Regions from separate parts of the Homo sapiens genome. Here regions 2, 3, 4 and 5 are each linked to region 1. The links come from fine-mapping of genetic effects on gene expression. A gene starts in region 1. Each other region holds a variant in brackets. All regions are shown on one strand. Distances are between the middles of the regions. Region 1 holds the start of XXYLT1 (xyloside xylosyltransferase 1). Region 2 overlaps XXYLT1 (xyloside xylosyltransferase 1). Region 3 overlaps XXYLT1 (xyloside xylosyltransferase 1). Region 4 overlaps XXYLT1 (xyloside xylosyltransferase 1). Region 5 has its middle 44 kb from the start of ATP13A3-DT.

Region 1 (4,117 bases):
CAGTGTTATGATCTCGGCTCACTGCAACCTCCACCTCCCAGGTTCAAGCGATTCTTCTGCCTCAGCCTCCTGAGTAGCTGGGATTACAGGCGCCCGCCACCATGTCTGGCTAATTTTTTGTATTTTTAGTAGAGACGGGGTTTCGCCATGTTGGGCAGGCTGGTCTCGAACTCCTGGCCTAAGGTGATCTGCCCTCCTCGGCCTCCCAAAGTGCTAGGATTACAGGCGTGAGCCACCATTCCCGGCCTAAGCCACCATGCTTGGCCTTGCTTTATTCTTATGGTTAAATATTTTGAACATTCTTAAATTATTAGGAAGATTTTCTAGAAATAAAAATGCTGTTTCAATGGTTGAGTATATTTTTGAGACTCATCCAATGTGGTAGGCACCGTGTTAGGTACTGGGTATATTGTGGTTAATAAAAAACAAATGTATATTCTGTTCTCTTGGAGTCACGTGTTCTTGCAATGAAGAAAGATGAGACTAGGGTAGTACATATATTTAGGTGGCCCTCACAGAATTATTGAGGATGGCACTTAGCCCAGACACTGGATAGGAGGTATTTAGAGATCATTTGTGTAGGTAGTGACATGTAAGCCAAGGTCTGAAGCAGAGAGGTTGGATAATCCATGCAACCTTACAATGTGGAAATAACAGGAAAAACCGTTTACCTAATCTCTGGTCAGAAATCAGAGAACTTGGCCAAAGAACTGAAGGGTTACTGTACTTACTCAAGTTCTTTGTCTATTTAGACAGCATGCACAGCACTTGCACGTGTTTACTTAAAAACTACTGGTATAGCCTCAATTCTTAGAAGACTGAAGTTAGTACGTTTTTATCTAGTTAGCAGTGTGCAACTGCCTAGGGTCAAAATTGCTACTGGCTAGCTGTGTGACTTTGGGCACGTGACCTCGGCGTGCAAAACTCCCTGGTACCCTCAAGGAGGCTCTTGATAAAGTGTTAAAAGTCTGTTTATAAAACAAAAGTGGATGAATGTCGCCCTCCAGGGCTTTGCGGTGCTGGGGCTCGGGGAGCAGCCTCGCAGGTTCGTGCGGGCGGCGGGGGCCCCCTGCTGGCCACATCCTCCAGCCTCCCTCCGCTCGGCCTCCGGCGCGACGTGCGGCCCGGGCCATTTCCTCCCAGGGCGGGGGAAAAGGGAGGAGCTGCCGGTTTAAATTGCCTAGCTGCAGCTCGTGTGCAGGGAGAGGCCGAGACGGCTTAAAGCCTCCAAGAAATTGAGGGAAAAAAGGTGCAGAGATTAAAGTTTTACCTCTTGGTGCCTCCAGCTTCGCTTTTGGCTAACCTAAGTTCCTCTGTTCGGGCGCCTCCATTCCCTTCAACACTCAGCTTGGATATCCTCTGGGGCTCGCCGCGTAGGGCGCCATTTCTCAGCCGGGACAGCGGGCCAGCCCTCAGCACGCTGGAGTCCGGAATCCCCCCCTCCCAACGCCGGGCGCCGGATCCCACCCTAACCCCTCCTCTAATACCCTTGGAACCTAGGACCCAGCGGTTTCGGCACGCCCGGCCCCGCCCCTCCGCGCACCGGCGCCCGCGATTGGCTCCAGGCGGCGCGGCCCCGCCCCTTTCATGGCCGCCGCCTGGCGCCGGGGCTAAGTGGCCGCCGGCGTCCGGGTACCCGAGGGCTCTCCCGCGTTGCTGGCACCGCTGGCGCCGCGGTCTCGTAGCGCATGGGCCTCCTCCGAGGCGGGCTCCCATGCGCTCGGGCCATGGCGCGCCTGGGCGCTGTGCGCTCCCACTACTGCGCCCTGCTGCTGGCCGCGGCGCTGGCCGTCTGCGCCTTCTACTACCTCGGCTCAGGCCGGGAGACCTTCTCCAGCGCCACCAAGAGGCTGAAGGAGGCCCGCGCCGGGGCTCCCGCCGCGCCCTCGCCGCCCGCGCTGGAGCTAGCGCGGGGCTCCGTGGCGCCAGCCCCCGGCGCGAAGGCCAAGAGCTTGGAGGGCGGCGGTGCCGGGCCGGTGGACTACCACCTGCTGATGATGTTCACCAAGGCGGAGCACAATGCCGCGCTGCAGGCCAAGGCCCGCGTCGCGCTGCGCTCACTGCTGCGCCTCGCCAAGTTCGAGGCGCACGAGGTGCTTAACCTTCACTTCGTGAGCGAGGAGGCCAGCCGCGAGGTGGCCAAGGGCCTGCTGCGGGAGCTCCTGCCGCCCGCCGCTGGCTTCAAGTGCAAGGTGAGCGGGCCGCGGCTGGGGGCTCCCGGTGGGTGGCCCACCCCATCCTAGGCGAGGTCAGTTTGCGCTCCCGGAGGGGATCCGGGGAACTAGCGGGTAGGATCTTCCCTGAGCTGCCCGCTTGCAATGTAGTGTTCACAACCTGCGGGAGGGCTCGTTCGGGGGCGTGTCCGGGAGCCAGACGCCCTCAGCTGGTGCTGAGGAGTGGAGCTGCGTTTTTAATGACCGCCTCGTTTTCCTCTCCCCCAGTTAAGCGCAGCCCCCAGGAGAGTCCGCGCGCCCCCATTTTGCTAACGTTGCAGGGTTCAGCACTGCCTTCAGAGTCTGCACCTCTGTTTATGTTCCTCAGTTTTTGACTTCTGAGGATGGGACTGGTCACCAGTAGTCATCCTGAGCAACTGGAGAGGGCCTTGGTGAGGCCTCTGGAAGTGTTGAAGTTGCAGTGACACTTCTCATTGCTCTTAAGGTATTTCAGTAGGATCTGGTCAAACTCATTGTGAACCATCTTATCTCCTCTCTGTGTCCCTTTTTCCCCTTCCTCCAAGGGTCATGAACCCATTTAGAGAAGCCTGGAGTTCCTCCGAATGAGGAAGAGAAAGCTCAAGAGGAACAGATATGATCTGGGGAGAGCACAGCTGGCCGCCTTGTCCCAGGCTGGACCAGTCTGCCTCCATGACAGCTTCCATCTCTGTTTATCATCTGTCTTCACTGCCTGGCTCTCCTTGTCTGAGATGTGTTTCTGACATAGTGTGAATTGCCTAGGTCAAATTGCTTATTTGATTTTGACCTAATAGTTGTACAGAGGGGATCCGAGGCCAGATTTTAAGGAGTAGTAGGTAATATTAAAGGGTGGAGACTGATGTTGGTTGGGGAAGCATGCTGAGACAGGAGTTGTATTATGTGAGTGACTAGGGGAGCTGTTGCCAGGATCCTACAGGCTTCGGGAGTCTCTGATAGCTCCTTGTTGCCTACGGGGTGAAGTCCCAGTTTATTGGTAGGGCTGTTGTGTTGTGAGCCTGGTCCACTTCTCTGGCTTCACCTCTCCTCCTTTGTCTACATGCACCTCATACCTTAGCTATGTAGGGAGTGGGCCTTATACATGCTGTACTGTCTGCCCACAGTGTCCTCTTGGGCCCTTGGCCATTCTTTACTCAGCTTTCACCTCTCCTGAGAAAGTCCCTAGACCCTGGGACCTCTGAAGGTCCTCGCTGGAGGAGGAGCCTGGCAACCTGTCCCAGGTGATCCTAATGACCCTAATATTTGAGAAACTTTGCACTAGTTCACGGTAGAAAACTGAGGGCCCTTGGCCATAGGGTCAGTCTGGGCAGATCTTGGGATTTGACCAGGTCTCCAAACACCGCCTTGAAGATAGCATTGTCATCTCTTCTGGGCCTACTCTGCACCGTTGCCGGATCTCTGTCCCCTTGTCCCCAGCTCCCGCTGCAGCGCTAGCTGCACAGCCAGTGCTTTCCAGCCTACTTGCCTTTGCTTTTGTCATTCCCACTGTTGGGGTGCTCCTTCTCTCCATCTCCAAGTCTTGCCCATCTTCAGATACCATCCCCTCCTTGGAGCCAAGGAAGCGTCCCTTCTTTCCTTTTCTACTTCCCTGGTGCTGTGACTGTATCATGTCTTATCATCCATCCCTATGTACAATGCCTGGCACTCTTAGTTGGCACCAGAAATATTGGCCCAGGGGTAGATCCAGCCTCAGGGCCGAGCCCCTCCTGTCTTGGAGTAAGTGTTTCATGCTCGGACTACCCCACTTTACTGGGCCCAGTTCTGGCAGCCTCACTCAAGGCCTGGAGGCAGCTGCAAATGACCAGAGGGAACTGATACCTCCTCTGTTGAGGGGTGAGGGTTTAGTGTCTGGGGACTTCTAGCCAGATGTCAGTGATTGGATAAGGGGTTATCAGTCCTGGCATAAA
Region 2 (4,117 bases), 190 kb after region 1:
ATGGCTGAGGGCAAGTTTGGGAGAGGTCCTTCTTTTTTTTTTTGAGATGGAGTTTCACTCTGTTACCCAGTGATCTCGGCTCACTGCAACCTCCTTCCCCCGGGGTTCAAGTGATTGTCATGCCTCAGCCTCCCGAGTAGCTGGGATTATAGGCACGCGCCACCACACCCGGCTAATTTTTGTGGAGTTGAGTTGGAGTTTCGCCATGCTAGCCAGGATGGCTTCAAACTCCTGACCTCAAGGGATCCACCCGCCTCAGCCTCCCAAAGTGCTGGGATTACAGGCGTGAGCCACCGTGCCCAGCCGAGAGATCCTTCTTCAGGGTTCCTCACTTTTTCTTCCTGCTGTACTCCCACGAGGTTCCGTGTGTTTATGCCGAAATGCCTGAGGGAAGGAAGTCCCAGGGACACAGGGAACTTTTCTGGCCCTGCCTATTCCTCCTTCCTGCTCCTGCACAGCTGCTCAGACAGTAGCACCAGAGGGAGAGAGAAGATGGGCAGGTGTCAGCAGCCCTCCAGGAAGACCACCAGGGAGGGGGGCTGACGGGGAGGCAAACGCCTGAGACTCATCACCCCTATTTCCTGAAAACTGAATCTGCATACACCCAAATAGGACAAACCTAAGGACTCTGCAAAAGCAAATAAGCATAGTGGTTGCCTTACGCGCCCGCCACCCTTGACACACACAGCACACTGCTGAGGTCCCATAATTGGAAACCACCCAGATGCCCCACACTGGATCCATCGTGAGGCTTTGTCAATACATAGAAGTGAGTTTTTGAAACAAAAGCAAGTAACAACAACAGCAAATCCATGTTGTAATCACGCACTTGGAATGCAGTTAAAGAGACATCATCAATCGTTGGAGTTCAGTGATCGCCCCCCGGAAGCTTCTAGTCCTGGCCTAGAACTGCAGGCTTTCAGGACTGACAAGAATCCTCTGGCCGATTCGTCCATTTAATAGGTTTAGGAACCGAGCGCCCAGCAGGGGAAGTGATTTGCCCAGGCCCACCCTGGTGGTGGGTGCAGAGCCAGGTAGACCAGTTGCAGGGCCCACTGGCTGCTGCAGACCACAGGGGAGGCTGGTGTGTTTGGCATTGAGAATCTGCACTGCTGCTCGCTGAACTTGACATTGTGGCTTTCCTTATCTCATCTGAATGTATTGAGTATTTTACTTGCATTACCTCATAACATTTTCTCGGCAGCCCTGTTTATATTTGGAAGCCTGCAGCACAGAGAGTTTGAGTGCCTTCTCCAGTGTAGATGCAGAGAACCAGGATTTAAGCTCCGGACTGGGACTGTCTGCCCCCAGAACCTATATTCTTAACCTGTATGTGCACTGTACATTTTTTTTCAAGGCAGTGGAAATCTGATATATTGCTGCCTCCTGGCCTTCCCTCCACCCTAGACCGATGGAAGGTGGCGGAGCTGGGCCTCCCTCCTGGCACCTGTAAGCATTATTGTGCTGCTTCCAGGAAGCCTGTCCCCGGGCCCTGCTCAGCGCTGTGACAGAGGGAGAAGACGGGACAAGTATTAGCATAGAACCTGTGTATACTTTGCAAATTGCTATGCCACCTGTTGTATGGCCATTTTCAGGATAAAATAACTCAGTGGCTTTCATCTCTTTATAAAAATCATAAAAACGCTTTTTTTTTTTTAGTGTGATTCTTGGACCAGCAGCGTTAGCGATCCCTGGGGGCTTGTCAGAAATGCAGTGGCTGACGAGCTCCCAGGTGAGCCCAGGCACAGTGACATCTGAGAAGGGCTGCCCACCTCAGCATGACAGGCTCCTGCAGGCGGGGCCTGGGCCTGGCCCATCACACTGTCACCGTGCCAATTACTATTTTTGCCTTGGCCAAGATCCATGCCACATTGTGTAGGACAGCGATCAGGGACAGCCAAAGGTGGGGGCCCTTACATGGAATGGGAGGGCGCTCCACTTTTTCTGATCTTGAGAAGTAACACAGTTTGCAGCCGGGGGTCATACTGCCCAGCACCTTCGTGCCTGGGTGAGCCACGTCCACGGAGTCTCTGCCACCTCTGGCTCCTGGGTTGGAACACCCCCTCCCATGAGGGTGAAGGGCGCTGGTGCGGATTGATGGAGTCTAACTGGGGACACAAGGTTAAATTCCACACATACCCTCCCTGCCGCCTTTCCCACAC[C/A]TGGCTGCACTCTGCTCGCTGTCCCGGAAAACACCCCACCATGTGTCCTGGCACTCTCTCCTGTGACCTCCAGCGCCATGAGGCTGTCGGGGACAGTGAGCCGATTCTGAAGGTGACCCTCTGTGGTTTTGTCTTCACTCTGACAAACCCTCCCCCATCCCCCCCACCCCCGCTCCCTTAAATTCAGGGAAAGAGGAGGGTTGTGGAGCTGAGCTGGGGCCTGGCTGCCCAGCTGGGCCAGGTGCATGTGGGTCCTCACCAGCTTTGGCTGCCGGCTCTGTGGTTTCCTGGTTGGGTCCTGGGGCTCCCACTAGAATTGAACTGCTCCCTGTGACAAGTACTGGGGCTTGAACAGCTGCTCCCTCTACAAGCCCCAGTACTGGAGGCTGGGTGCCTTCCAGGGCCAGCGCTAGGAAGGGTGTTGTCCAGAGGGCTGTGGGCATCCCCAGGTCAGGTCACCATCTGGGCCCCTTCCTTCCTAGTCTTTGTCACACTGAGCACTTCGTCACAGATGTGGATTCCTGGGCTTGGGGAGCCAACTTTTCTGCCTCACCTTCTCTGTCTTCACTTCCCTCTAGTGACTGGGCCCGAGGCACGTTCTCCTCCCGCCCCTGCCTTTCTGAACGGTTGTGCCACTGCCTTCATCCAACATTCTCCTAAATTCCTGCCATCTAGCTTTAGAATCTCTTATGCCTTCCTTCATTAATCCATCCATTTGAAACTAACAGTTCTGGGGGCCCTTCTGTGAATCAGATGCCCACGCCAGGCCCTCCAGACATGAAGATGAGCGGGACACTTCCCCTTATCAGTCCCAGAGTCACCTGACTCTGCCCACACCCTCACCCTTTATTTGCCTGTTATTCATTCCCGATTGTATTACACAGAGCCCCTTGTAAACAGATTCTCTCTTTCTCAAACCCTTCTCACACCCAGCCCCTCCTCCTCCTTAGATGACTTCATGTCTTCCTTTCCTGACCTCTCAGAACTGCTGCTGTCCTCGCTTCTGTCCCTCTCTGCTCCCAGCCACATCCCAGGGTTCCCTCTTCCCGGACAGCTCTTCTGCCTGGCAATTCTCCCCTTGCTGACCTCGGGCAAGCGTTTTAGAGCTCTCTGCCTCAGCTTCCTCATCTAGAACATGGAAATCATAGTACCTACCTTGTTTGCTTATTACAAACATTATACTGAATACATTTAAGAACTTACAACAGGGCCTGGCACATAGTAAGTCCTCACTAAATATTAGCCATTATCGTTATTCTCATTCCTCAAAGAAGCCACCCTGCCGTTTTCCCTGTATTTCTTCAGTCTGTCTTTCTCTCATGTATGCATCCCTTTCCCTTGGCGTACAGAATACTCAGCTCTCCCTCTTTGGAAAATATCCTCCCCTCTGTCCTCTGTTTGCCTCTAGGTGCCATCTGGCTCCCTGGCGTCTGTTCTCTGCTGTTCATACGCTCCCCAGGGCCAAGGGTGTGGCTTCCCCGTCTCCATCCCTCTCCTTCTCCAAGGTCACTGTCACCTCTTGCGGCACTTCCAAGTCCTTGCCCTCTACAGCTTTCCACACTGCTGTATTCTCACATGCAGTGATGTACTGGGGGCAGATGACACTGGGTAAGGGGCCGGGAGATGCAAATTGAGGCTGACCATCTGGGGGCAGGGGTCAGAGCTTCCAAGGGTCTGATGAGCAGGTTCTGTGCAGGGTGGGTCAGGACGTTGCCGCCAGAGAGGGATCTCAGTTCCCATCACTGGAGCAGAGTGCGTCTGGTCGCAAAGTTCATGGAGAGCCGAGTGGGTAGCTTAGGTGTGGTTTGAGGACACTGTGGTCAAGGTGAAGGGAAGGGCCATCAGCATTTGGAATTCTTGAGGGTGTCCCTAGGGATGGAGCAGAGAGGAAGGGGATCCCAGGCGGCGAGCAAGGAGCTGCCAGCCGGATGGTGCGATGGGAGGTGGGGAGGACA
Region 3 (4,117 bases), 200 kb after region 1:
GAGGCTTGGGGTCCAGAGCCCTGGGTTCAGGTCCCAGCTCTGCCACTTGCTGGTGTAGTGATGCGGATTCTGCACCCCGGAATGTGGCAGTGTTTGCATGCAGGCTGGCTGTGAAGACCCAGGGCAGCAGGCCGGCAGGCTGGTTCCCCTGCACACCGGACTAACTCTGTCCTCTCTCTCCACAGGCACACATTCTGGCAGTTCCGCCATGAGAACCCCCAGACCCGGGTTGGGGGCCCGCCCCCCGAGGGGCTGCCGGGCTTCAACAGCGGGGTGATGTTGCTGAACCTGGAGGCCATGCGCCAGTCCCCGCTCTACAGCCGCCTGCTGGAGCCGGCGCAGGTGCAGCAGCTGGCCGACAAGTACCACTTCCGCGGCCACCTCGGGGACCAGGACTTCTTCACCATGATCGGCATGGAGCACCCCAAGCTCTTCCATGTGCTGGACTGTACCTGGAACCGGCAGCTGTGCACCTGGTGGAGGGACCATGGCTACAGTGACGTCTTCGAGGCCTATTTCAGGTGTGAGGGCCACGTCAAGATCTACCACGGGAACTGCAACACTCCCATCCCGGAGGACTAGGCGCTCCCCGTGCCTTGCCCCCGGGGCCTCCAGATCTGGGGGAAGGACAGGGTTCCTTGGGACAGACCCAAGGGCAGTGTCTGACCCGCTAGAGAGACACCGCAGGGAAGTCCTGTGATTAAGGTGCTGAGACCTCCTGCCGGGCAGGTCACTGTGCTGAGGCCACCCGCCAAGGACTGGCCTGTGCACTGCTGGTGCTTGGGACCTTATTCCTCCAGGGAGCAGGCGACACAAAGGACACGCATGTCCAGTGGGCTGGGAAGCAAGCACTTGAAGAGAAGGAAGGGGAGAAAGGGTCCCCCTTGCTGTCTGCCTCTGAGGAATGGAAATCCTTTAGACCCGGCCTTTTTTGGACCAATATAAATTTAATTTAAATTGACAGCCTTCCATTTTTCGAGAAAGTACAAACAGAACTGCTTTAGCACCCATCGAGCCCCAAACGGGTAAGGTAAGCCAAGGTTTTAATGACCAGCCCAGTATCTAAGCTTCCAAACGAATGCCAGCCCATCACATACTCACCCTGGGAGGCTGCTGCACGCGCATTCTCCTGATGCTCACGTCACTTGGTGTAGGTTTCAGGATCGCCTCTTTGAGGAAGGACTTCAGGACCAACTGGGGCCTGCATAAGAAAACTTATCTCATTATTAGAGTACTCACAGCTTGTATCTCCCAGCTACATCCTAGAACCCCATTGTCCTTTATTCCACCAAACCAGCTCCAGGTGACCAGACTCTACTCAGAAAGCAAATTCGTCATCAAAGAACAGAGACTGGCCACCACAAGGACATGCAGGAGAACTGTCGGGACCAGGAAGACTCATTCCAAAAAGCCCAGGCCGGGCACAGTCGTCAAGCCTGTAATCCCAACACTTTGGGAGACCGAGGTGGGGGTATCGATTGAGCCTCGGAGGTCGAGATCAGCCTGGGAAACACAGGGAGGCCCCCATCGCTACAAAATATTTTAAAAATTAGCCAGGTGTGGTGGCTTGTGCTTGTTGTCCCGGCTACTTGGGAGGCTGAAGTGGGAGGGTGGCTTGAGTCCAGGAGTTCACTGCACTGAGCTGTGATCACACCACTGCACTCCAGCCTGGACGACAGAGTGAGACGTCCATCTCAAAAAAAAAAAAAAAACCAAAAAGGAACCCAGCAATTCCCAAGTGTGACCATGTGGGCTTGGAAGACATGTCACTCATGGGCTAGTAAGCATTCTAGTTTCTTTGTTTAAAAAATCCCCTTATCATACCACGTTAGACCGTAGACCTTAGCAGAAATTAAAGCGTC[A/G]TTTCTTTTGATGGGGCCTCCTGTACGTAGGCTGCAGACGTGAAAGCCCCAGGGGTCCATTTGTATCAATTTTCATCTTGTTTTGTTTTGATTTCATTTACGTTTTTCTTTTTCCCATGAGTGAGGATAGCCAATAAATCATCTTTGAGAACATGGTGATTCATGTTGTTTGTTCTCTGATCACAGTTTCAGCTGCATGAAGGCTCTGAATCAAGTGTGTACTCAATGCCATTGGAATCCCCACCTCCCCTGATGAAGATGAGTGCTTACAGGAGATCCTAAGGACCAAGGAGAGGGCACATCTGAGAGGGTGTCAGAGAGGGTAGTATTGGCATGTTTGGTTCAAAGCAAGGAATCATTTCATTCTAGGTATTGGCAGGTCCACCTGCACTGGGGAGCAAAAGCATCCCCATTTCTTCTCATCCCTCTTACCCTAGACTGCCCAGTTACATCCTGCCCTGAAGAGGTGGAGCAGATATCTTTCCCAGCCCTCTGCTGTGACAGAATTGGTCTGTTCTCTCACCTACTTGATTTCCTATTTATAGGTAACAATTCTTGAATGCCTGCTGTGCACCAGCCATTGTATTGGGGGATTTATTACGCTATTGATAATGTTTATGAAAACTTCATGAAGGTCATTATGTCTAAAGTCGACTGTAAGAAAATGTGAGAGATGTGGACAGAGTCATATACTATATGTTTATCACATTTTTTATAGTAGAAGAAAATTGGAAGCAACTTAAAATGTGAAAAAGAGGGGCCAGGCGCGGTGGCTCACACATGTAATCCCAGCACTTTCAGAGGCTGAGGCCGGCAGATCTCTTGAGCCCAGGAGTTCAAGACCAGCCTGGGCAACATGGCAAGGCCCAGTGTCTACAACTATACAAAAATTAGCTGGGCATGGTGGTGCACGCCCAGCTATTCAGGAGGCTGAGCTGGGAGGATCACTCAAACCCAGGAGGCAGAGGCTGCAGTGAGCTGAGATCACGACACTACACTCCAGCCTGGGGGACCGGGCAAGACTCTGTCTGTCTTTAAAAAAAAAAAAAAAAAAAAAAAAAAAAGAATGGAATAGGTAGATGAATAATATGCTTCATCCATATAACAGAATACTTGAGGCATTATTCGAAGAATATGTAATGCCTCAGGAAATACTTAGAATGTGCTATTAAATAAAGAATGCAAAATGTAAGATCATATGTTTAATACGATCCTATTTTTAAAATTACATATATGTGTATGTATATCAGTGTACACACGTGTGTATAGATACATACCTACACACACACGTATGTATAAAAAGAGCATCTATTCTGCTGTATTTCAACTTCTAAAAACATAGGTGTTTCAAACACCACATTAAAAAAACAATTATTTCAACGGGAAAAAAGTGAGTTAAAGGCTAAAGAATTTTAGACTCACAATAATAAAGGTATTTTCCCTGCAATCCTTTCTATAATTAAAATGTGTCTATAGCTATGTGTGTATTTTGTTGTTGCAAGAAAAAAACAATAAGCTGGTTGGTCAAAATGGGCAAAGGCCAAACAACATCCCTCATTTACTTTTAAGTAAACCTCTCAGGAGCTTCCCCTCTGTCACCAGTGGCCTCGACCTTCCAACCCCCCAGTGCACAGCAGACTGTCACTGCACAGGCACCCCAGCCCACCCACAGATCACACCCCAGCCCGCTGACAGATCACACCCCAGCCCGCTGACAGGTCCCACCGCAGCCCACCAACAGATCCCACCCCGGCCCGCGGACAGATCACACCCCAGCCCGACAGATCACACTGCAGCCCACCAACAGATCACACCCTGGCCCATAGACAGATCACACCCCAGCCTGCTGACAGATCACCACATAGGCACCCCAGCCCGCCGACGGATCACCACACAGGCAGCCAGCCCACCGACAGATCACTCCACAGCCTGCCGACAGATCACACCCCGGCCCACCGACAGATGACTTCACAGGCACCCCAGCCCGCCCACAGATCACCGCACAGGCACCCCAGCCCGCCCACAGATCACACCCCAGCCCCCCGACAGATCACCGCACAGGCACCCCAGCCTGCCCACAGATCACACCCCAGCCCGCCGACAGATCACACCCCAGCCTGCGGACAGATCACTGCACAGGCACCCCAGCCCGCCCACAGATCACACCCCGGCCCGCCGACAGATCACTGCACAGGCACCCCAGCCCGCCCACAGATCACACCCCAGCCCACTGACAGATCACACCCCAGCCCGTC
Region 4 (4,117 bases), 91 kb after region 1:
TGTCTGTCACAAGGCAAGGACTCAACAAATGGCAGTTTTTAGTCATATTGCTCTGGAATTGGACCAGAGAACTGGAGTGTTTGTTGAGATAGAAAGTGTGTTTGTAGTAGCATATTTTATTGGAGACCTTGGGTGACCAGCTTTCTCAAGAAAAATACGGAAGCTCATTAGGAGCTAACCTCTGACTTTAGCTTGGGCAGTTTACCCATTGTCCATGAGTTAGGCCATTCATTCATCTTCCCCTCTTATTTCCATGTATTATGCAGTGGTTAAGGGTATCAGCTGTGGGAGGAACAGCCCTGGTGCAAAACCCAGCACTGCCAGATACCACCTGTGGGCACTTAACCACTTGGGCCCAAGACTTCTCCTCTGAAATGAGGGTGAGAGGATCCAGCACATGGCTGGATACATTATCCATGGAAATACACCTATCTCGAGGGTTGTTGTGAGCACCAAGTGAGCTTATATACAGGAACAGCTTCCAACAGTACCTGGCACACAGTAAGCACTCAAGCAGTGTTACCTGCTCACACCATGATTGTGGATATCTATTATCATCCACTTCCTCAGTCCCCTGTCACAGCCCTCAGAGAATTTGAGGTGTTCACTAAAATGACACAAAGGTGAAAAAACAAAACCAAGTAGACACTCAGGGCCAGGGGGTAAATGTGTAGAAGATGAAAGTGTAGACCTCATAGAAAAAGACATAAAGGCACGCCTGGTGGCAAAACATGCTCCGCAGCCCCGCAGCCCCGCAGCCACGCAGCCACGCAGCCACGCAGATACACAGCCAGTGTGAAAAGGGAGATTGTCATCCTTTATGGAGCCGTCATTGTCAGAGAGAAGGAAGCAAGTCAGTCCTCAGGGGAAGCAAGTCAGTCCTCAGGAGAAGCACAGTGTTCTCAAGCACCGACTTCTCAAATAAATTACCTTTATTTCTCTTTTTAGAACATGTTCTCTAAGTGCTACACACCTGGCCGCAGGTGGGCCCCATCAAAGGCTCAGATGCTCCGGCCTTGTCTTTCCCTCTCACGGCCTGGAGTCACCACCCTTTAGCCCTTTGTCTGAACTGAATTCCTTGAAATCAGTTGGGCATTTTATATTTTGGTTTGTGGTCAAACCTCATTAGCCAAGAAGGGATGAACCATACCACTTACTTTTGTATAGCTAAAGGTCTGGGCGACAGTGGCCTTGAGGACCCCTCACGAGCAAAGTCCTGAGGCAGGACTAGGGACAGGCCTTGGAGCTTCTCCCGAGGAGGGCCGGCGCTGCCCTTGCTCCTGGCGAGCAGGTGTGTGCTTGCAGGGGTGGGGGCAGTGGGCAGGCGCCTTTCCCGTCTGCTTGTGTGTGTCCAGAGCTGTCAGACCCATGTTCCTGGTCACGTTTGCAGTGGCACGGGGTGCTCCAGCCACCGCCGTCTGGTGCTCTTAGCCAGACGGGGCCACATCACGCTCTGGAGAGGGCTGGGAAGGGCCTTAGGGTCTGGCCTCAGATGCTGACCCTTATCTGTTTGTTTGCTTCTTTTCAAGGGCTACAGAGCCAGGAAGAGGAGCATAGAAAGAAAAAGGAACAGGAAATTGTTCAAAAGAAGTTCATGAAATGAGAAAAGCAGCAGGAAACAGCTCGGGAATCGGCGAGGCTGCAGCCGAAGGAAGTGT[GTC/C]TTGAGGGCCAGGCGGGCCAGGGGGATAAACCATCCAGACCTTTGTGGCTCCTTCCTTCTGGGCCCTCATGAGTTGGGTCCCCAGGATGGAAGGGACCTTTCCTGTAACTGGGGGACCGAGTGTGCCACTCACCACCCCCGGTGTCAGTGCAGAGACGGGGATCTGGCGTTAGAAATGACTGTGCATAAGCCAGACCACCCCAGGCCTGCTACACAGCTGCCTCCCTCCCTGCCCCTCTTGTTTGCTCCCCTCCTTCCATGACGGGTCAGCGGTGCTCTGCCAGAACCCCACTGCTTGGGGCCGCTCAGAGATTCTTCTGTCCCTCACCAGGCGCTCCGTCACTCAGCCGCACCCTGGCCCGACTCTGCCTGCAGTGTGGAGTCCCGGCCTGGAGCCTGCCTGTGTTGGGGGAGACAGTGGGAGGGAGAGGAGGAAGCAAAGGCCCGAGGGATCACGGGGAGGCATCCTCAGGGGCCCACGCATCAGTCACAGCATGGGCGACGCAGGGCAGGTTTCCTGGCTCAACACCACACTTAGGAAATCCTTTGTTAATTGTGACTCGTTTTTAAATTTGTCCCACATCTCTACGGCTGCAAGTGGAATCTGGAAAATCACCTTTTTTGTGCTTTTCTCATGGGCAGGATGAAATTGAGTTCCCAGTTAGAAACTGCTTACCTCTCGGTGTGGGCTGTTTGCCTCCGGTTTGTTTCTGTTTTTGGGGTTTTTCTGTTGGAATTGACTAGTGGACTTACAAGCTGACGGTGTCCATTCTGGGGCCAATGTCTCCTCAGCATTCCTCCTCCACACACGCAGGCCTCTTCAGCCGACTGATTCTTTGGCCAGTGTTCAAGTTGAGTGTAAATAGGACGTGACTGAAAACCAGTTCTTGAGCTTCCATATCCTTTTCTGGTCAGAGTATTGAACACTGCAGTTTTTAGTGGAGTTAAGGGAGTTGTTGAATTGGGTCAGAGTGTTTTGGGGCTGGAAAAACTCTGAGGTACGATCCCATCATGAGTTCTTTTTTTTTTTTTCTTTTTTTTTTTGAGACGGTGTCTCACTCTTGTCGCCCAGGCTGGAGTGCAGTGGCGCGATCTCGGCTCACTGCAACCTCTGACTCCCTGGTTCAAGCAATTCTCCTGCCTCAGCCTTCCGAGTGGCTGGGATTACAGGCACGTGCCACCATGCCCAGCTAATTTTTGTATTTTTAGTAGAGACGGGGTTTCACCATATTGCCCAAGATGGTCTTGATCTCCTGACCTCATGATCCGCCCGCCTCGGCCTCCCAAAGTGCTGGGATTACAGGCGTGAGCCACCGCGCCCGGCCCCATCATGAGTTCTTGAATCTCCTCCATGGCCTCCCTGGAGTGTGGAGTTGTCCAGTGGAAACTACGTGAAGGCCCAGGGACAGGGAGCTGCCACCTTCAGAGTAGCCTCTTCCATCTTCAGACATATTTTAGAAAACTCTTTCTTATGTTTTCCAAAACCTGCTTTTATCTCTTGATGCTTCAGCTCTCGATCTCAATGAAGAAGCCTATTTCCTTTCTTTTACAAATTCAGAGAGAGCCTTCCATCAGGGGAAACAGTCCCGGCTTCCCCATGTGCTCCCTGGTGGAAATATCTCTAGGTTCCCTGCTCTCCAGATACCTGCTTCTGAATGCACAGCAGTTGGTCTCTGCTCCCCTCAAGTACGGGGCCCAGGTGTGAAGACCGTGCTTCAGAGCTGGGCACTGGGAGAGGGCAGACACAAACCGGAGTGCAGAGTACAGGGCTATTCTCAGCTCCCTGCGTGAAACCAGGGAGCTCTGCCTCTGCTGATGGAGCTGCGCCAAGTCCTTATTTGATGGCCGCGTCCTGCTGGAGACACTGAGTTTGCAGTGGCACCAAATCCTCTGTGTGTGCCCTTTGTTGTGGCCGCTCCACATTTCCAGGATGGTCTCCACCCAGAATTTGATTTGAACGTTGAGACCACATAATAGGGTTTTCTGGAGAGAGCAGGGCCGGCTTCTCAAGCTGGTCTGAAAATGAAAGACAGGGAAGAGAAAGGAGAAAGGAGACTGGTCTGGGGATTGTATGGTGATTAGCGGTTAGGTTTGGGCGAGGGTTCCGTGTGGGCAGGGGCTTACATGGTTTGAACCTTCTGCTGCAGCCAAGCGGGAGAGCATCCAGACTTTCTTATCAGCTTGCCCAGATGTGGGGCAGAAGGGGAAGAGCGAGGGATGGGGCTTAAAAAAAAAAGCTGTCAGCAGTTAAAGAGCAAAAAATGGAGTCAGACTGTCATACCTCCTTTTCATTTATTTTCTATCAAGATCAAATGTTTAATACAATGAAATGCACAGGTCTTAAGTGTGCAGTCCAGTTAGTTTTGACAAACTTATATACCCTTGTAACTGATACTCCAGTCAACAAAAGCAACATTTCCATCCCTCTTTTTTTTTTTTTTTTTTTTTAAGAGACAG
Region 5 (4,117 bases), 740 kb after region 1:
AGAATGGTGTGAACCCAGGAGGTGGAGCTTGCAGTGAGCCAAGATCATGCCACTGCACTCCAGCCTGGGCAACTAAGCGAGACTCCGTCTCAAAAAAAAAAAAAAAAAAAAAAACTGGAATGAGACAGAAAATTAGCATGGTCCCTGCGCAAGGATGACATGCAAATTTGCAAGGGTTCCATATTTTTAAAAAATCATTACAGAATTCTTTACATAGAAAATTCCATCTAGTAGATCATTGAACAAAAGAGAGACCAGAAATAGATCTACACATACACATGTATGACCTAAACCTGTGGATATGAACCACATTTTATATTTGCTTTTGACAAAGATTTTATATAGCAAGAAATGTGGCTCCTATAGAGAAGCCTGGCCTTTTCCCCATCTCCTGGGAGGTAATCTCTAAACTCTTGGAATTTCCTGAGTGTTAAGGGTGTCTTTGTTATTTGATGGGCCCTTGGAACTACACCTGATATTTTATGCTATAACATGTTGGGGGTGGCCATGGCAGGAAGACCAACTATCTGATAAGACGGTTGGAGCTGGGGGACACATGGTATCAGCTCAACCTCTAGGGAACAGGGGGCGGGAGATTGAGTACAACCACATGGGCTCAACCAATCGTGTTTGTAAGAAAACCTCAATAAAATCTCTGGGCACCAGAGCTCAGGTAAGTTTCCCTGGTTGGGAATACTCTGAACAGACTATCACACATCAGTGCTGGTAGGAAAACACTTTCCTGAAGATAGTGGCAGTTTCATGTTTGCAACCCTCCCAGACTTCACCCTACGTGTCTCTTCCTTTGTCTGGTTCTAATTTATATCCCATTGCTATAATAAAGCTGCAGTGGTACACACAGCACTTTCCTGAGTTCTGTGAGTCATTCTAGCAAAGTACCAAATCTGAGAGTGGTTTTAGGAAGCCGCAAACTCGCAGTTGGTGTCTGAAGTCAGGGCAATCTTATAGGGATTGTTCCGTCTGACTGTGTGGTTTGGGTAACTCCTTACAGATACCAAGGCAATTCACTGAGAAAATGGACTCTTTTGCACATGTCATACTGTAATTATTGATATCCATATGTAAAGAAATGAGCCTCAACCCTTACCTCATAGTATCTGCAAAAACTAACTTGAAATGAAAAGTAGACCGGAATGTAAGAACTAGAACTAGAACTTTTCTAGAATAAAATACAGAAGAACGTCTTTGTGACCCTGGGTTGGGCATATATTAATATATTAAATAGACCACAAAAAGGAAAATATGATGACTAGGTCTTCATAAAAATTTTAAAAATTTGCTCTTCAAATAATACTGTTAAGAAAATGAAAAGGCAAGTCTGGGGTAAAATATCGGCAAAATATGTATCTGTCAAAGTATTTGTATCAAGAATATAAAAAGAATTATTTGGCGGGTGTGGTACCTCATGCTTGTAATCCTAGCACTTTGGGAGGCTGAGGCAGGAGGATCACTTGGATAGTCATTCTAGCAAAGTACCAAACCTGAGGGTGGTTTCAGGAAACCCCCAAATTTGCACACTTACAAACTTGTAAAAAAATCCAATTAGAAAACGGGTAAAAGACATGAACAGACATTTCCTGAAGAAGCTATACAGATGGCAAATAAGCACATGAAAAGAGTTCAACATCATTAGCCATTAGGGAAATACAAAATAAAGCCACAGTGAAATATTATTTTGCATTTTGCATGTAGCATAATAATATTTTTTATTTTAGGCTGGGCACGGTGGCTCATGCCTGTAATCCCAGCACTTTCGGAGGCTGAGGTAGGCAGATCACCTGAGGTCAGGAGTTCGAGACCAGCCTGGCCAACATGGTGAAACCCCGTCTGTACTAGAAATACCAAAAAAAAAAAAAAAAGTTAAAAAGATATTTTTTATTTTTGCCTAGCAGAATGGCTAAAATGAAAAATAATGACAACACCAAATGCTGGCAAAGATGTAGAGAAACTGGGCCACAAAAATTGCTGGTAGGAATGTGAAATGATACAACCACTCTGGGAAAAGGTTTAGCAGTTTTTAAAAATAAAACCGTGCGGGCTGGGCGTGATGGCTCACACCTGTAATCCCAGCACTTTGGGAGGCTGAAGCGGGTGGATCACGAGGTCAGGAGATCGAGACCATCCCGGCTAACACAATGAAACCCTGTCTCTACTAAAAGTACAAAAAAATTAGCCAGGCGTGGTGGCGCGCGCCTGTAGTCCCATCTACTCGGGAGGCTGAGGTAGGAGAATTGCCTGAACCCAGGAGGCGGAGGTTGCAGTGAGCCGAGATCTCGCCACTGCACTCCAGCTTGGGTGACAGAGGGAGAATCCGTCTCAATAAATAAATAAATAAATAAATAAATAAATAAATAAAACTGCATGAAACTACCATACAACCCACAGTTGCTCTCCTGGGCATTTATCTCAGAGAAAAGAAAACTTACATTCACACCAATTGTTCATAGCGACTTTATTCATAATAGCCAAAAACCAAGTCATGGTATATGCACAGGACGGAACACTACTCAGCAA[T/C]AAACAGGAGCAAGCTATTGGTGTGTGTGTGTGTGTGTGTGTGTGTGTGTATATGTAATGAATCTCATATGTAATGAATCCCTAGGGAATTAGGCTGAGTGAAAATAGCCAATCTTTACAAATTGTATATTGTATATTGTATGCTTACATTTATCTATATTACACTCTTGAAATGACAAAATTATGGAGAAGAGACTAATAGTTGCCAGGAGCTGGGGGCGGGGAAAGAGGTGAGTGTGGCTATAAAAGGGCAACACAAGGGGTCCCAGTGATGATGGAACTGCTCTGTGTCTTGACTTCATCAATGTCAACAGCCTGGTTGTGATATGTTACTATACTTTACAAGATGTTACCACTGGGGGAAGCTGGATCAAGGGATCTCTCTTTTTTTCTTTTCTTCCATAAGTAAGGAAACAATCTCTGTATTATTTCTTATAATGTGAATCTATAATTATTTCAAAATAAAAAGTTAAATTAAATAAATCTGTACACAAATGTTTATAGTGGTTTTATTCATACTCATTAAAAACTGGAATCAATCCAAATGCCCAAGAACTGGTAAATGAATATATAAAATGTAGTAAAACCTTACAGTGAAATGCTACTCAGCAATAATAAAGAATGAACCACTGATATGTAAAACACGAATGAATCTCAAAAGCTTCATGCTATGTGAAAGGAGTCAGACTCAAGACTATCTACTATATAATTCCATTTATGTGAAGTGCTAAAAAAAAGTCCAAAATCTTAGTTATAAAAAGCAGATTAGTGGTTGCCAGGAGGCAGAGGGTAGGGGTGTAGAATGACTGAAAAATGTTTCAAGGTAATTTTTTGGGGGTAATGAAAATATCCTATCAATTTCATGATTGTGGTAGTGACTATATGATGGTATATTTGTTAAAACTCATTTATTGTGCACTTAACATTGGTGAATTTTATTGCATTTAAATTGTACCTCAATAAAGTTGACCCCAAAATTGGGCTAATAAATTTAGACTATTTTGCGACTTGCTTTTTCATTTAACTATATGTTGTGGACTTCTGGCTTCCAGACAGAGAGCTTTACCTCCTTTTTAATAGTTCCATAGTCTTTCATTGTATGGATGCAGCACAATCCCACAATTAATTTAATTAATCTTTCCTTGATGAGCATTTCTGCTGTTTCCAATTTTTTATTCTTTTTTAAATTTATTTATTTTTTTTGAGACGGAGTCTCGCTCTGTCACCCAACCTAGAGTGCAGTGACATGATCTTGGCTCACCGCAACCTCTGCCTCACAGGTTCAAGTGATTCTTCTGTCTTAGCCTCCCGAGTGGCTGAGATTACAGGTGTGCGCCACCATGCCCACCTAATTTTTGTATTTTTAGTAGAGACGCGGTTTCACCATGTTGGCCAGGTTGGTTTCAAACTCCTGACCTCAGGTGATCCACCCACCTCAGCCTCTCAAAATTTTTTATTCTTACAAGTAATGTGATGGTTAACCTTTTCATGTATCTTTGTATACCAGAGAAATTGTTTTTATTGAATAGACTTCTAAAAGTGATATTTCTCGGTTTAAGGATATATGTAATTAAAATTTTTG

Evidence for each region. PIP is the estimated chance that this variant, and not a neighbour inherited with it, causes the effect. A credible set is the group of variants that fine-mapping cannot tell apart.
Region 2: its variant is the best candidate, but not a certain one, in a credible set for the expression of XXYLT1 in nasal epithelium (TOPMed, PIP 0.63).
Region 3: its variant is the best candidate, but not a certain one, in a credible set for the expression of XXYLT1 in blood mononuclear cells (TOPMed, PIP 0.61).
Region 4: its variant is the best candidate, but not a certain one, in a credible set for the expression of XXYLT1 in whole blood (TOPMed, PIP 0.66).
Region 5: its variant is the best candidate, but not a certain one, in a credible set for the expression of XXYLT1 in prostate (GTEx, PIP 0.88).

Annotation. Positions count from the first base shown.
Region 1 is chr3:195,268,630-195,272,746 of GRCh38, reverse strand. XXYLT1 (xyloside xylosyltransferase 1) reads left to right here and starts at 1,588. Exons shown (of 4, transcript NM_152531.5): 1 at 1,588-2,192. The coding sequence starts at 1,689. RefSeq lists silencers at 958-1,187, 1,438-1,967, 2,128-2,307 and an enhancer at 1,558-2,349.
Region 2 is chr3:195,078,759-195,082,875 of GRCh38, reverse strand. All of the region lies in intron 3 of XXYLT1 (xyloside xylosyltransferase 1), which reads left to right. Among named protein-coding and RNA genes, the nearest start is that of XXYLT1-AS1, 14 kb to the left of the region's middle. RefSeq lists enhancers at 391-560, 2,452-2,531, 3,336-3,852. The variant C/A (reference allele first, on the strand shown) is at 2,163.
Region 3 is chr3:195,066,180-195,070,296 of GRCh38, reverse strand. It overlaps XXYLT1 (xyloside xylosyltransferase 1), which reads left to right. Exons shown (of 4, transcript NM_152531.5): 4 at 186-2,013. The coding sequence ends at 582. Among named protein-coding and RNA genes, the nearest start is that of XXYLT1-AS1, 26 kb to the left of the region's middle. RefSeq lists an enhancer at 766-1,965. The variant A/G (reference allele first, on the strand shown) is at 1,863.
Region 4 is chr3:195,177,928-195,182,044 of GRCh38, reverse strand. The region is part of intron 2 of XXYLT1 (xyloside xylosyltransferase 1); the gene reads left to right. Among named protein-coding and RNA genes, the nearest start is that of XXYLT1-AS2, 32 kb to the right of the region's middle. RefSeq lists enhancers at 832-1,409, 1,410-1,987. The variant GTC/C (reference allele first, on the strand shown) is at 1,659.
Region 5 is chr3:194,529,574-194,533,690 of GRCh38, reverse strand. It overlaps the pseudogene RNU6-1101P. Among named protein-coding and RNA genes, the nearest start is that of ATP13A3-DT, 44 kb to the right of the region's middle. The variant T/C (reference allele first, on the strand shown) is at 2,536.